Regions from separate parts of the Homo sapiens genome. Here region 1 is linked to region 2. Evidence: fine-mapped expression QTL. Tissue or cell type: whole blood. Region 2 holds a variant in brackets; the other region holds the start of a gene. All regions are shown on one strand. Distances are from middle to middle.

Region 1 (8,170 bases), 510 kb before region 2:
TGATCACTCTCTTGCCAAACTGACTTAGTAGTGTTCTTTGCTAAAACTGGATTTTACAAGGAAGTACAATGATGGTGCTAGGAAGTTTCAGAAGACTAACTAAAGTTTGGTCAAGCAAAGAATTGTTGTTAGCAGTAATTTGAAATTGGTTTTATTACAATAGCTTGCCCTTGATTTATTTTTAGTTGTGTCCTAATCTCTTTCAGAAATATGGTCCATCTTAATTTGCATGAGTGACTTAATCTATATGAGCCTCAGAGAGGTACTTCTACAATAATTCATGTTTTATTATAAATTGCTTTTGAGTGGACACAAGGCGTTTCAGGAGGTAGTATTGCGCTAATTATCAATCCTTTAAAAATAATTAGAGGCTAAGTAACAAGAATTAAATCTAACTTCCTTTTGGGCCCCTTTATTAGTCAAGATGGATGTTTTCCACTTTAAGAGAGAAGCAAATGGCTTGATGGGCTGGCATATCAATGTAAACCTCTCTCTGACATCAGTACTTCTATACTTTTCCTACCACACAGAGCAGTATTGAATCAGGAGGTGATGAGGCTGCAAAGAAACTAATTATTATTATTATTATTATTATTATTATTATTATTTTTAGAGATAGAGTCTCACACGGTCCCCAGGCTGGAGTGCAGTGGCGTGATCTTGGCTCACTGCAACCTCCACCTCCCAGGTTCAAGCCATTCTCCTGCCTTGGCCTCCCAAGTAGCTGGGACTACAGGCGCGTGCCACCACGCCTAGGTTATTTTTGTATTTTTAGTAGAGACAGGGTTTCACCATGTTGACCAGGATGGTCTCGATCTCCTGACCTGATCTGCCCACCTAGGCCTCCCAAAGTGCTGGGATTACAGGGGTGGGCCACCATGCCAGGCCCGAAGGAACTAATTTTTAAAAATATTCACTGATCAGTTGTCCTTGAGAAGACTTGAAGCATTTCACTATTTTAAGTCAATCTCAAATTTGTCATCTGAGCAAAATAGAATAAAGATGCCACTGAACCTAGAGGAAAGATTAGGTAACCAGGAATCCTACTTTCAGGTTTCCTTTATCTCTTCTTTTTATGATCTCTTTGGAGTCTCAGTCCCAAGTCCTGCACTACTCTCCATGGTCATGGAGCACTCTGATACTGTTTCCATCTAAAAAAGAAAACAACTCCGAGAAGAAGGGGGTAGCCAGAGCTCTTCCTTGGAAAAGGATGACTTAAGGATAATTTGAGGAAGGAAAAAAGACTTTCTTTCTATAAAAATCTACTATTAGAGGCCACTCTTTTCTTTTCTTTTTTGAGGCAGGGTCTCACTCTGTAGCCCAGGCCAGTCTTGAACTCCTGGCCTCAAGCAACGCTCCTGCCTTGGCCTCCCAAAGTGCTGGGATTGCGGGTGTGAGCCATTGCACCTGGCCTAGAGTCACTCTTTTGGGTTAAGACGTTCTCTCTAGAAAGCCTCCGTTAATTATAGGTAAGGATTGATACATTGACCTATTACCTCAACTATGATTTCAGCAAAGATAATTTCACTATCCCAATCAGCTGTTAACTTAGAAAGCTAGACTTTTATGGTGTTAACCACACACACATACAGACGCACACACACGAGCAGCTTTGGGTCTTCCAATCCTATACTTAGCACATTGTAGCACAAAGAATCTCCTTAATATATTTTTATTAAGTTAATAGGTGAATAGGAAAGGCTGTAGTGTGTTATACGGGGAAATAGACTCAGGTGTGTCTAGATATTAAAGTCGGTATATTAAGGTTACCAAGCGTGAAAGATTTTGATGGAAGAATGAAAACATCCATGTCCAGGACTTCCAGTTTCATTTCTCAGTCACTAATTTCAAGTCACCAAATAAACAAAGTGAAAATGGGTGAAACGTACTTTGAGTTACAATAAGTTTATCTTAATTCATTGACTTTTCAACTGCTCAGATGTCTTAAAATTTTTTAAAAAGTAAGTTGTTATAGTAAAGAGCCACACAAATACTCATAGCAGAGGAACAATTTCTGGATTATGTCGGTGAGCTTTTTAAGGGTTTGGGGAGGATGAGAATAAAAGGGTGACTTTTTATTTTCAGTTTTTCTATCTGGATGTGTCAAATTCCTGATAACTTCTAACACTCAGCAATGGAAATTTAGAAGGTGCCTGAAAGAACAAATAGAATTTTCAGACCTGGAGAAATTCTAGTAATCATCACTCTGGGACATATTATTAAAATTAGTATTTTAAAAAAGAAAACAATCTTTCAGAAAGACAGGAAGTTTAGGAGCCAAAGCCAGAGGCCCTAATACAAATCGCCCCCACCTCCCCATCCCCCCATCCCCACCTTCTTCCCCGCCCTGTTCAAACACGCCCACAGCCCAGGAAATAATGAGACCCAAGTGATCCAGCTAGATAGAAAAAGTAGTTTGCTTGGCATCTCCCAAATTATCTTGAGCAAACAATAAAATAAGAAATGTTTCAGAAGACAATTCGGCTCCCAGGCCCAAACCAAAACTCGAACCTGGTACTTTTTGTAAGTGCGGGCCAAGAAAGGGGCTGTAAAGTTAAAGAGCCGGTGGCGCCTCTGAACACACCCGGGCAGGGCGAGCAGGATGTCCTTGTCCAGGGAGACCCCTTCTCCTGGCTTTGAGGAAGGTGCTCCCTATCCCCGCGGGTTCCTCCGCCAAGCGGGACGCCGCGCCGGGCGGGTGAGAGAAAGCCCGGGCAGGAGAGCACAGAGCCGGCGACTGGACGCGAGCGCGGGGCGGGTGGAGAGCGTCTCTCCGGGCGCCGCTGCTGTTGTCCCGGGTGCTGAAAAGCCGGGAACTTCCCGGGAAGCAGCGGCACTTTTCTCCCTGGAAGGTGGGTGTGGGGGTTCCAGACTGCGCACCTGCTAAACCCTCCTGGGTCCCCCGGGAGGGGTCCGCCAGATGTGCCCCTTCCCAGCCCCATTCGGGGGAGAAGGATGGGGGCGGGGGCGTGGGGGTGAGCACAGCCGGACACCGCAAGTGGGAACCTGGGGTGTCCTTCCCCGCAGCTCCCGGGCAGCCGCGCGCCGCGAACCCCGGTCCACCTGCAAGCAAGGCGGGCCGGGGGCAGAGGGCGCCGGGCTGTGCGGGGGAACCGGCCCGCGTCCCGGGATTGGGGGGCGGTGGAAGAGAGAGCGAGCGGGCATGCGCAGTGGGGCGGAGGAGGTGGCGATGGCCGGGGGAGGCGGGGGGACTGCTGTTTATTTGCAGCTGGGCCAACTCCGCGGCGCAGGCGGCGGCGGAGCGCGGGGAGCTCGCGGCGGGTCCAGCTGCCGCAGCACCATGCCCGAGCCCCCCTCCGGGCAGACGCCGCGCGCCGCCGGGGCCCCGGTAGGGGAGGATGCCAGACGCCCGGGAGAGGCCAGGGCAGCAGCGGCGGCGGCGGCGCGATGGTGGTGACCACCTCTGCCCGAGGCGGCGGCGGGGACCGCACACCCTCCCGGCGGCGGGGCTGCGGGCTAGCGCCGGCCGGGGCCGCGGCGCTGCTGGCCGGGGCAAGCTGCCTGTGCTACGGCCGCTCCCTGCAGGGCGAGTTCGTGCACGACGACGTGTGGGCGATCGTGAACAACCCCGACGTGCGGCCCGGCGCCCCGCTCCGCTGGGGCATCTTCACCAACGACTTCTGGGGCAAGGGCATGGCCGAGAACACCAGCCACAAGTCCTACCGGCCGCTCTGCGTCCTCACCTTCAAGTGAGTCCCTCACCTCGCGCTAGCCGCCGCTGCCTCCTCTACCCTCCGCCCGTCCCTCGGACCGGGAGAAGTTGCGGGACTGACTTGGGGGCATTTCATTTTTGCCGCCCTTTCCCTCCACGCCTCCCTCCTCTCCAGGATGTGCATGGCACTTTGCTCCGGGATCCACTGCCCGGCTAATCTGGGCTCTCGGGGCGGTTCGGGAGGCGCCGGCTGGGGAGTTGGGATCGAGTTTCTCAACTGTCTGCCCTCTCAGCGGGCTTCTCTCTCGAGGCAGGGCTGGGAGCGGGCTGGTGAAACCGCCTCCGCACCCCTTCGCCTGCCGGATCGTGACCAAGTGGGACTAGCGCGGACCCAGAGGGTTCCGGAGGGGTGGCGGTGGTGGCGATGCTTCCAAGTAGAGAATTTCTCGGAGGCTGTTGGGCAGCTTTGCAGATGAGAAGTGTATCAGCCCCTTAAGGGTTTCGTTCAGATGAGACGAGGCGGGAGCCTTGAGCTGACAGGGCTGCGTGGGTTCAGGAGAGGGAGCAGAAAACTCTCCCGAGCCCCCCAGCCCCCGCCTTGCACCCTTGGCTGCTCCCAGAGGCTCTCCAATCTGCCAGACTTCTCTGGATCTAGACTTTAGAAGGTGCAGAGAGAGGTAACGCAGAGCCTAGGCTTCTCCAGGGACCCTGGGGCCCCAGCCGAAATAGTTTTTCTTTTACAACCTCGGAGTCATGATTCAGCGTTTCTGGTGTGAATAAGCGTAAAGGGAACCGAGAATATGCCAGGTTTTTGAGGGGTGGAGTATTTTCTTTAATTTGAAAAGAAGCCTAGCTTCTGAGGAAAGAAGAGAAGTGCTCATTTAAGGGAAATGCTATCTTACACAATCAGGAGCTTGACTCAACCCTTTATAATGTGGCTCAGCATTGAAGTTCATTTTAACGCGCCGGTCAAAACTGTTGAAATAATATTGGTGCGCTATTATCGGCGTTTTAAGCCTTTTTGCAACGGGTGTAATAGGAACCCGTGTTTATGGTAATGATTATTTGAGACTGGGTTGGCAGCTTGAAAAGCCTGCTCTGGATGAGAGGCTGAGGCCTCTTGACAGGTGTCTCTGATGACTCAGAAAAGGAAACCATAGCAATCGGCAACAATTCATGGGCTTTTGACTTACGTCTTCCACTGAAAGTTTAATGTTTTTAAGGAGAGTGAGAAAATTACATATTTGACTTTGAAGAGAATGTGTTATAGACATTTGTTCTCTTAGAAAGTTGTTCTCGTTTTCTACTGAAAGATAACCTTGGCTAACCTCGCTATTCAGTTTCCCAGATGTTTCTTAAAATCTCCTTGGGACAAATATAAATGTTTCACTTCTAGATTGACCTGCTTTTTCATTATTACAGTCAGGGTTGTTGGTTAATTTAGGATGTGCAAGTTCACAGCATGAGATGTGCTTGCTATCTTTGTAACAGCCATGGAGACCATCCTGGTCACAGGTCTGAGTATTTTTCAATTAAAAAGGGCAGAGTCAAATGCCTGTGCCTACTTGCTGGAGAGTAGGGAAGGGTGTTTTCACTTCTTGACTTTCTAGAAGGTTTTCTTCTTTTTTCTCTGTCTTTTCTCTTTTTTTCTTTTTTGGGATGGGATCTCACTCTGTCCTCCAGCCTGGAGTGCAGTGGCATGATTATTGCTCACTGTAGCCTGAAACTTCTGGGCATAAGCAATTCTCCTGCCTCAGCCTCCCAAGTAGCTGGAACTACTACTGGCACATGCCGTGCATCCAGATATATTTTAAAATTTTTTTTGTAGATATGGGGTCTTCCTATGTTGTCTAGGCTGGTGTTGAACTCCTGGGCTAAGCGATCTTTAAGCCTCAGCCTCCCAGTGTGCTGGACTTGTGGGCATGAGCTACTGTACCTCACCTAAAATGTTTTATTTTTCTTCATAATGGAGACAGCAGGCACATAAGGGAGGGGTGGAGGGAGTAGACAAAGAAGTAAGACCATTGATTAAGAGGAAAATTGGCTAGGAGTTGACAGAACAAGGGCAAAGGAGAGTTGGGGGATTCAGGAGGAAGAGAGCTGAGGGACTCTTGTGGTAATCATTGATTGTAACAAGCAGCTTGGTGTCTAAGAGGCATGGCTTGCTGTATATTATATGCTACTGCCTATGAAAGATACACTCTTTTTTTGAGAAGATTGAGTTGCAAATCTAGAAGAGAAACACAGCACTAATTGGAAAGAGATAACTGCCTCTTCAGAAAGAGAATGTTAAGTAGTCTTTCTGTCCTCACATGCATTGATTTAAATAAGACTGGACAGTTTTCTTTATATTCACCTGAGGTATAGCATGAAGCTGGAGGATATCAGTGATTTTAGAACCATACAACTCTACAGGATGGTACAAGGAAGGACAGAAAGCCGTATTTATTAACTATTCGCTATGAACCAAGCATTGGCCTAGATACTTCACATAGATTACGTCTTTATGATTTTTATTTTAGATAGTGAAAACACAATTGAAGGGGCCCTTTAAATATGTGCAAACCATTTTAACTGTATCTTAAATTATGCTTGTTTGAGCAAAAACTTTGAGATTTCAAACCCGTTTTAAAAACTTTTTTAATGTAATTGTGCATTCCCATGCAGTTTTAAGTAATAATAGAGAGATTCCTTCTACTCTATCCATTTCCCCCAATGGTAACATCCTGTATTATTATGGTATAATATTACAACCAGGAAATTGATATTGATGCAATCTACAGCATTTAGTCAGATTTCACCCATTTTATATGTACTTCTATTTTTTTTATTTTACTAAGTGTGTATTTAGTTTTATGCAGCTTTATCATATGTGTAGATTTCAGAGAGTACCTCCACAGTCAAGATACGGAACAATTCCATCCCAAGGATCCTCAGTACTTCTTTATTGCAATCATGGACACCTAATCTATAACAACTGCCTAATCCATAATCCCCTCACCCAAATCCATAACAACCATGAATCTGTTCTCCATTATCATTTTGCCATTTTAATACTGTTGTATAAATGGAATCACATAGTATGTAACCTGTTGAGATTGGCTTCTTGCACTCAGCATGTCTCTGGATCTTCATTCAGGCTGTTGCATGTATCCATAGTTTGTTCCTTTTTATTGCTGAGTTGTATTCCATTGTATGGATATACCACAGTTTGTATAACCATTCACCTGTTGGGGACATCTAGGTTGTTTCCAACTTTTGGCTGGGATAAAGCTGCTATAAAAATTCACTTACAGGTTTTTATGTAAACATAGATTTTTATTTCTCTGTTCTAAATGCCCAGGAGTCCAATTGCTGGGCCATATGGTGGCTGCATGTTCATATGCTTTATATGAAGCTGCCATACTGTTTTCCAGATGTTCCTAGCCGCAGTGTCTGAGTAATCCAGTTTCTGTGCATTTCTGCCAGCACTTTGTATTGTTGCTGTTTTTTACTGTAGCCATTTTGATAGGTATGTAGTGATATCACACCTATATATGTACCTCATTAATTTACCATTCCCTAATGGGTGAAGCTATTGAACATCTGATATTAAACCAAAGAGTTTGGTAAATGTGCCTTTGTGTCTTTTGTCCATTTTTAAGTGTTTTTTTTAAATGTTGAGTATTGAAGTTCTTTATATATTCTAGATACATGTACTTTGTCAAGTATGTGATTGGTAAATATTTTCTCCCACTCTGTAGCTTGTCTTTTTGTCCTCCTCACAGGACCTTTCTCAGTGCAATACTCCAAACATATTTTTTATTAAAATGTAAGTTGATTTTTGATTCATTGAATGTATCTTACGCATACTGAGAGCTAGAAATTTCCTTAAGAATAAATGTAATTTATAGATGCATAATACTTTTTGCTATAAAGGTGGTTGCTTGTATACTAATAAATAATAAAAGTGCTTGCTTAGGTAGTAAAGATACTAATTATGTATTTTTTCAAGTAAGAAATGAACTAAAATTTGAAATGAGGAAATGGGTTGCAGACCATCTACTTCTACCAGTTTTGAGGGGATGGGACAGTGGAATATGAAAGCAGCTTACCAAGATGTGGTGGCTTTGCACTATGTCACTTTAGCTAAGTTGGGACTATGTTTCTTGGAATTGCCTTTGCAAGATGATCTGGGTTAGGGCTGACCATAAGAAAAATTTCTGCAAGATTTGGAAGGTGAAAGTGAAGTGGCTAAGATCACATTCAGAATGTTGGCATAGGTTTTGTTGCTGCCAGGCCTCTTGCAGTTTGTCACAGAAATGTTGGTGAACATGCTGTTGGTTTGCAGCAGCACCCAGGCCCTCAGCTCCTCCAGTGCTCTCCAGATCTCGTCTTTCAGCTACTTGGAATCATGGTGCAGGTGTGTATGCAGCTCTGCAGGGAAGAGTGCCAGTCTTTTTGCAAGCCTCTTGCATTGTTAAAGTTGGAGCCTTAAAGGCAGTGGAAAACAGACAT
Region 2 (8,203 bases):
AGAATACCAAACCAGAAGCTGAAATATCTGGATCTGATAGAGAGGATAGTCTATTCCCCCTTGGACTTTGGACTGGATGCAATAATGGTATGAGACCCTGGGGTAGGAATGAGTGTCTTCTATGTGTGGGAAAGAGAGGAAAGCAGATATTTGGCGACCTAAAAAGAAGGCCATGGCAGAACCTCATTAGTTGTTCAACAATCCTATTTTCCTTTTCTCCTGGACACACAGCTATGCATTTTCCAGCCATCCTTGTGGTTAGATGCCCAGTGACAGTTCTGAGAATGGAATATGGACAGATGTGATAGGCACTTCTGGGCCTGGGCCACAAAAACCTTCCACATGATGTCCAGTGCCTCTTTTACCCCACTGACAGTTTTTTATTGTCATCCAGAGAGACCTTGGATGGTTTAGAAGCCATGTGTAGAAGATGGCAACCTTCCCTTAGCATGGATCCTTGAATGACTGTGGAGTGCAATGCCTTCTACCAATTACACCTACTGTGTTTGAGAATCAAATTTCATTTGTATTAAGCTACTGATTTGGGGGGTTTATCTCCTTCAGCACCCACATTAGTACAACTCATGCAGAATGGAGAGTTAATGTGAACACATATGGCACAGACTGGTGAAACCTAGGACTTTAAGATGATAGATGAATTTCTGATTATACTTTCCTTTCCCGCAAAAAGTTTTTTTCAAATTAAATGTTGTAATATAAATGTGAATTCTTAAATATCTTTCTAATGAAATGATGACTAACTATAGAAAAGAGAATGCAGGAATATATACATCCTTGATAAGAGTGTGAAACTGTTACAGGCAATCTAGAGGGTCTTGCCTAGGGATAACGAACAAAATAACATACCTGGGTAAAAGAAATGAGAGGTTACTGATAAAAAACTAACATTTAGCCGGGAGTAGTGGCTCATGCCTGTAATCCCAATACTTTGGGAGGCCGAGGCAGGCAGATCGCCTGAGGTCAGGAGTTTGAGACAAGCCTGGCCAACATGGTGAAACCCCATCTCTATCAGAAATACAAAAATTAGCTAGGCATGGTGGCGGGTGCCTGTAATCCCAGCTACTTGGGAGGCTGAGGCAGGAGAATCACTTGAACCCGGGTGGTGGAGGTTGCAGTGAGCAGAGATTGTGCCACTCCACTCCAGCCTGGGTGACAGAGCTAGACTTCATCTCAAAAAAAAAAAAAATTATATTGCACAATATAAAACATTATTTTATACTTAGGATCACATTTGATCTTTGCAAATCCATATGAAATAGCTATTATTATCAGATACAGTTTATGAATAATAAAAACAAGACTCATATGGGTTAGGTAACTAGGCCATGGTCTCTCTACCAAGCTCTATCTCTCTGATTGAGGAGAGAGTATCTAGAGCATCAGTGTTCTTTTTACTGCCTTATGCTACCTCCCAGTACAGGTATAACAACTAAACCTACAAGTAACCTGCAATTGAGGGTTTAGACTTTTAGCATCTTTAACCATCCAAAACATAGCTGTGGGACCAAAAAGCAAAAAACAGTTTACAAAAGCCCATATTTATTGCACCAAGAAAAAGCCATGTCTGTGAAATATTGCTTAGAATTTGTGTACTAAACTCAGCATAATGAATTAACAAACTCAGTGACCTCATTTTCTCCTAGATTACAATAAATGGAAGACTTAAAATGATGAGAAAAATAAACACAGAAAACCTCAATTAACAGGGTAGAGGATGACCTATTGAAAGATTGGGCATTCATGTGTGGGAGGTAAAGGCAAGTCCTGTGAGTGGTAGGCAGTCCGAGGCAAGTGTTCTCTCTTTTTGTTGTTTGATTCTAAATTTATGACAACTGAAGAAAGGGCCTTGGCCTGGTCTGGATCAACTTGGTATGGAGCCCATGAGAAATGAAAGATGATTCATAAACATACCTAATTCATCCCAGGCAACAGCAGAAATGACCATGAAAAATGAGCCATCTGAGAATTCTCAACGATTCTTGGAGAATGTCATTAATTACATTTTTATTACAGGGCAGGGATGCCCAAGCTGACATATGGGTTACAAAGGCAAAGTAGAATTTCCCTCTATGGGTTTTGTTAATGTAAAATATAAATTAATAAGCTTTTTGCTTTTACTAATATGAAACATACCCATCAATTAGTTGTCTTCAATTCAGAAAGAACTAAACTAGAGTTCGATAGTATCTTAAATCCAAAAAATAAAAATAAAAACCCAACCAGCAGCCATTTGCTGAATTCCTGAGTGCTTAGGAGTCTCCATTTCTAGTCTAGCAAATGTCTTCCAGTTGCAATTTTAAACATTTTTCCCAGATCTTTCAAGAAACCTGTAATAGTATCAAGTCCAGCACACAAAGCTAGCTTTCTGTAAGCAATCAGTCTCATCTACCCACCTTTACTTTATACAGCCTCCTAAATTCAACCTTAGAATAAAAAGTACTTTTTTGTTGTTAAAAGTCTGTTCTCTAGCCAGGTGTGGTGGCTCATGCCTGTAGTCCCAGCACTTTGGGAGGCTGAGACCAGAAGATTGCTTGAAACCAGGAGTTTGAGATCAGCCTGTACAATGTAGTGAGACCACCATGTCTTAAAAAAAAAAAAATTAAAAACAATAGCTGGGCATGGTGTCACATATTTGTGGTCCCAGCTACTTGGGAGGCTGAGGTGGGTGGATCACGTGAGCCCGGGAGGTTGAGGCTGCAGTGAACAATGATCATGCAGTGCCCTCCAGCCTTAGTGATAAGAGTGAGACCATGTCTCAGAAATTTAAAAAAAGTCTATCCTCTGCCTCTAAGGGACTTTGTTGTTATAAAACTACTGAAAATTTGTATAAATATATCTTATTAAATATAAACATATTTTATTAAAACTATTGAAAATATATATAAACCAGGTGTGGTGGCTCACACTTGTAATCCTAGCACTTTGGGAGACTGAGGCAGGAGGACTGTTTGAGGCCACAAGTTCAAGACCAGCCTAAGCAACATAGTGAGATCCCATCTGTACAAAAATTTGAAAATTAGCCAGCTTTGGCAGTGTGTGCCTGTATTCCCAGCAACTCAGGAGGTTGAGGCAAGAGAATCCTTTGAACCCAGGAGTTTAAGGTTACAGTGAGCTGATTGTGAACTGTACTCCAACCTGGGCAACAGAGTGAGACCCTATCTCAAAAAAAAAAAAAAAAAAAAGAAAGAAAATATGTACAAATGAATGTTTTAAATTGAAACAATTACTATAGCACCAAAATGCTCATTCGATGAGATGGAAATTTCTTCTTAAATGTCTATTTCTCATTTTGCAGCAAAGGCATGATTATACTTCTATAAATTTTTGCCTTACATAGTCAGATAGAAGCATGCAAAGTAGGCAGAGCCTAGGCATCTACCTGAAAGAAATGCCCTCCTGCATTTTCTTGAACATATTAACTCTTCCTGAGCTCCAGTGGCACTATCTCTGGAGTCCTTTTCCGGCAGATAATTTTAAAGCAGGCGTCACTTGTTATTTTCTCTCTCAAATTGCCGTGTTCTTTGTCTTCACAGTACTTTTGAAAATACTTAAATATACATGTGTTTCTTATGAAACTCGTTTGCCTCACTGGACTTTAAGATCTGTGAGGCCAATTCCATGCCTGTTTTATTTTCTACTTTATTGCCCCTGTTCCCCAGGCACAAAGCAATAAGTGCCTGACATACATTTGGCTCTCAATAAATACTTGTCATATTTGTGTGCTTGTTCAACTTTTCTCACTCTTTTTGTGTGTAGGTGTGTACTTTCTTGTTATTTCTGGACACTTACGGATTTCCTTATTTTGCCTCAAGGTCAGCTATGCATTAAAACTATTTTATGGCCAGGCGTGATGGCTCATGCCTGTAATCCCAGCACTTTGGGAGGCTGAGGTGGGTGGATCACGAGGTCAGGAGTTCAAGACCAGCCTGGCCACGATGGTGAAACCCCGTCTCTACTAAAACTACAAAAATTAGCCAGGCGCGGTGGCAGATGCCTGTAATCCCAGCTACTCGGGAGGCTGAGGCAGGAGAATCGCTTGAACCCAGGTGGCAGAGGTTGCAGTGAGCTGAGATAGAGCCACTGCACTCTAGCAGCTGGGTGACAGAGTGAGACTCCGTCTCAAAATAAATAAATATTTTATAAAAAACGTATTTTATCTATTTTTTTTTTTGAGACAGAGTTTCACTCTGTTGCCCAGGCTGGAGTGCAGTGGCACATACACACACATATATATATATAATCTAGAGATTTTACATATATATATATATAAAATCTAGAGGTTTCTTTCACCTTTCAAACATAGCTCATCCCCATAACTTAAAAAATATAAAAAAATACAATTTTATCTGTCTTGTCTTTATTTTGAATTTTCAATTTCAAAGGGAATACAAGCAATAATATCTTGAATCTCATAGATGGCCAGTAACTACTTCTTGCATAATTCCTTATTTGCACAGAGCTTTATCCACAGCCAATCAGCGATAGCATTCTTATATTCTGAAGCATACACAATTTTGTAGCAAAAACTTTTCAGTTTTGGGATACGCAGCAATAAAATCAAGCACATATTTTTTTCCATGGAAAATCTCTTTACAGGTATCAGATTCCATATAGTGACAAGAAAGTAGATATTTGCATAGCTAATGGCTTGTGCATTAATAATCAGGTGATAGAATCTGTTCTTGTTACCCACAAAATGGCCATGTAGACATGGTTTGTGATCTACCGTAGATGTGTTTTTCAACTATATTATACACATCAGATTCCCTTCCTCCCACAACTCTTTGAGGGAAAAATTTATGGGAAAAAAAACACTTCTTTTTTTGGCATAACTTAGTATACAGCCTAACTTAGTAAAAAGTGAGGCCCTAGGAAATAGTGGTAAAAGCCATACCTTAAATCCAGAAAGGCTTGAGGGCAAGAGAGAAAGACGCAGAGACTCCCTGGGTAAGCAAGGTATTATTACAGCATTTTACAGATAAAGAAACCAAGGCTCAGCAAAGTATATATCTAGTCCACTATCACACAACTCACA[A/G]TTGGTCGTATGGAGATTCACACCCAGGTCTGTCTGCCTCTGAAGCCCAGGCTGTTAAGTACCATCTGATCACAACAGATAGTTCTCAGGTGATCTTGAATGCTGCTGATATTGGGACCACACTTTGAGAACCACTGTTCATAAAAGTCAACAGCTGACAGTAAATAGCCCAATAGTGAAAACAGGTGCTGAGATTTGCAAGGCAGTTTCACAGATAAGTTACATAGAGTATAATCACGATTTCCAGAACAAAAGCAATGTTGCCGTGTTATAAAAAACACTGCATTGAAAGAAGCAGTAGGTAAAGATTGGGTTGACCACAAGACTCTCTGCCACAATATTTATCTAGAAATGCATAGTTGGCAACAAAGCTCCCAGACTAACACGAAACGTCTACTATGTGAGGAAAACAAAGTCCAGAGGTGCGACCAAGATGGCCTACTAGAAGCAGGGGTGATTGGAGGCTCCCATCGAAAAACAAACATAACACTTTTACACTGTTGGTGGGACTGTAAACTAGTTCAACCATTGTGGAAGTCAGTGTGGCGATTCCTCAGGGATCTAGAACTAGAAATACCATTTGACCCAGCCATCCCATTACTGGGTATATACCTGTCAGGCCTCTGACCCCAAGCTAGGCCATCATATCCCCAGTGACCTGCACGTACACATCCAGATGGCCGGTTCCTGCCTTAACTGATGACATTCCACCACAAAAGAAGTGAAAATGGCCTGTTCCTGCCTTAACTGATGACATCGTCTTGTGAAATTCCTTCTCCTGGCTCATCCTGGCTCAAAAGCTCCCCCATTGAGTACCTTGTGACCCCCACTCCTGCCTGCCAGAGAACAACCCACCTTTTTCCTTTACCTACCCAAATCCTATAAAACGGCCCCACCCCTGTCTCCCTTCGCTGACTCTCTTTTCGGACTCAGCCCGCCTGCACCCAGATGATTAAAAGCTTTATTGCTCACACAAAGCCTGTTTGGTGGTCTCTTCACATGGACGCGCATGAAATTTGGTGCCAACCTGAGGTCATAGGTGGATCTTTCTCATGGAGCAAAGAGCAGGAGGACGGGATTGATCTCCCAGGGAGGTCCCCCGATCCGAGTCACGGCACCAAATTTCATGCGCGTCCATTTGAGGAGACCACCAAACAGGCTTTGTGTGAGCAACAAGGCTGTTTATTTCACCTGGGTGCAGGCGGGCTGAGTCCGAAAAGAGAGTCAGCGAAGGGAGATAGGGGTGGGGGCCGTTTTATAGGATTTGGGTAGGTAAAGGAAAAAGGGGGATTGTTCTCTGGCGGGCAGGAGTGGGGGTCACAAGGTACTCAGTGGCGGAGATTTTGAGCCAGAATGAGCCAGGAGAAGGAATTTCACAAGACAATGTCATCAGTTAAGGCAGGAACAGGCCATTTTCACATCTTTTGTGGTGGAATGTCATCAGTTAAGGCAGGAACCGGCCAGCTGGATGTGTACGTGCAGGTCACAGGGGATATGATGGCTTAGCTTGGGCTCAGAGGCCTGACAATACCCAAAGGATTATAAGTCATGCTGCTATAAAGACACATGCACATGTATGTTTATTGCGGCACTATTCACAATAGCAAAGACTTGGAACCAACCCAAATGTCCAATAATGATAGACTGGATTAAGAAAATGTGGCACATATACATCATGGAATACTAGGCAGCCATAAAAAATGATGAGTTCATGTCCTTTGTAGGGACACGGATGAAGCTGGAAACCATCATTCTCAGCAAACTATCACAAGGACAAAAAACCAAACACCACATGTTCTCACTCAGAGGTGGGAACTGAACAATGAGAACACATGGACACAGGAAGGGGAACATCACATACCGGGGCCTGTTGTGGGGTGGGGGGAGGGGGGAGGGATAGCATTAGGAGATATACCTAATGTTAAATGACGAGTTAATGGGTGCAGCACACCAACATGGCACACGTATACATATGTAACAAACCTGCACACACGTACCCTAAAACTTAAAGTATAATTAAAAAAAAGAAAAAGAAAAACAAACACAATAACCGTGTGAATCCTTCGCCAGCAACAGAGTTATCCAGGTTCTCTCATCAAAATTGACTAGAAGGCTGGTGTGACCCACCAAGAGAAGGAAGAGCAGTGTGGTGCGGTGGCCCACCTGAGAGCCACACGGCGAAGGGGAGTCCCCTCTCCCCAGCCAAGGGAGGTGGTGAGTGAGCATGCTACCCGGCCCGGGGAACTGCTTTTTCCATGGAACAGTGCAACCTATGGGTCAGAAGAGCCCACTCCGGAACCCAGGCCACCAGGGCCTACCATCCCAACCTGAGAAAGTGCAGATTCTTACAGCCTCTCAGCTAAAATCTGCTTAAGCCTACTGAACTCCTGGGGGCAGAGGGGCGACGAGCCCTGGCTGCCATCACCTGCTGTCTAAGCCATTTGAGCTCCTTGGGGGAGGGGCAGCAGCCAGCACTGGGACTGGCAACTGCCTAACAGGCTAAGCTCCCTGGGCAGGGGAAGGGTGGCACCCATTTCTATAGCTCCAGGCTGTGCTTTTCCCCTGCTAGTGCCAGGAAGGCTGGATGGCTTGGTCCCAAGACTTGTCCCCACAGCCCTACACACCGTGGCAGCCACACACACACTGTGGCAGTCTGCGGCCAGAGTGCCTCTTCAGGCCTAACCCCCACCCATCCTTCCTCGTTGGTGGGGGAGGGGCTTCCCTGCAGGATCTCCAATAACTCTAGCCAGAGGCTTAGGAACAGAATTCTGATCTCCCTGGTCCTGAGCCCCTAAGGGGAGAGGTGGCTGCAGTCTCTGTGGACCAGCAGACTTAGCCTCTCCTCCTGGTAGTTCTGAGGAATCAGGGCAACCCAGACAAGTGGGTTTCCCCCCAGTGAAACACACCCTCTCCACCAAGGGACAAAGTGGTTCGTTAAACGGTCCTACTCCCAATGCCACAACAGGGTGAGACCTTCCTACAGGGGTTGTCAGACACTCTATACAGGAGCAATCCTACTGGCATCAGGCTGGTGCCCCTCGAGGTCAGAGGTCCCAGGAGAAGGAGCAGGGACCCATCTTTGCTGCTCTCCAGCCTCTTTGAGTGACATCTCCAGGCACAGCAGAAAATCAGATGAATAAGGCCTGA

Evidence for each region. PIP is the estimated chance that this variant, and not a neighbour inherited with it, causes the effect.
Region 1: TMTC1 starts here. The variant in region 2 is fine-mapped to the expression of TMTC1 in whole blood (INTERVAL, PIP 0.95).

Annotation. Positions count from the first base shown.
Region 1 is chr12:29,778,990-29,787,159 of GRCh38, reverse strand. TMTC1 (transmembrane O-mannosyltransferase targeting cadherins 1) reads left to right here and starts at 3,218. Exons shown (of 18, transcript NM_001193451.2): 1 at 3,218-3,710. The coding sequence starts at 3,409.
Region 2 is chr12:29,272,933-29,281,135 of GRCh38, reverse strand. The region is part of intron 2 of FAR2 (fatty acyl-CoA reductase 2); the gene reads right to left. FAR2-AS1 (FAR2 antisense RNA 1) reads left to right here. Exons shown (of 7, transcript NR_103860.1): 7 at 1-721. Among named protein-coding and RNA genes, the nearest start is that of FAR2-AS1, 41 kb to the left of the region's middle. The variant A/G (reference allele first, on the strand shown) is at 5,057.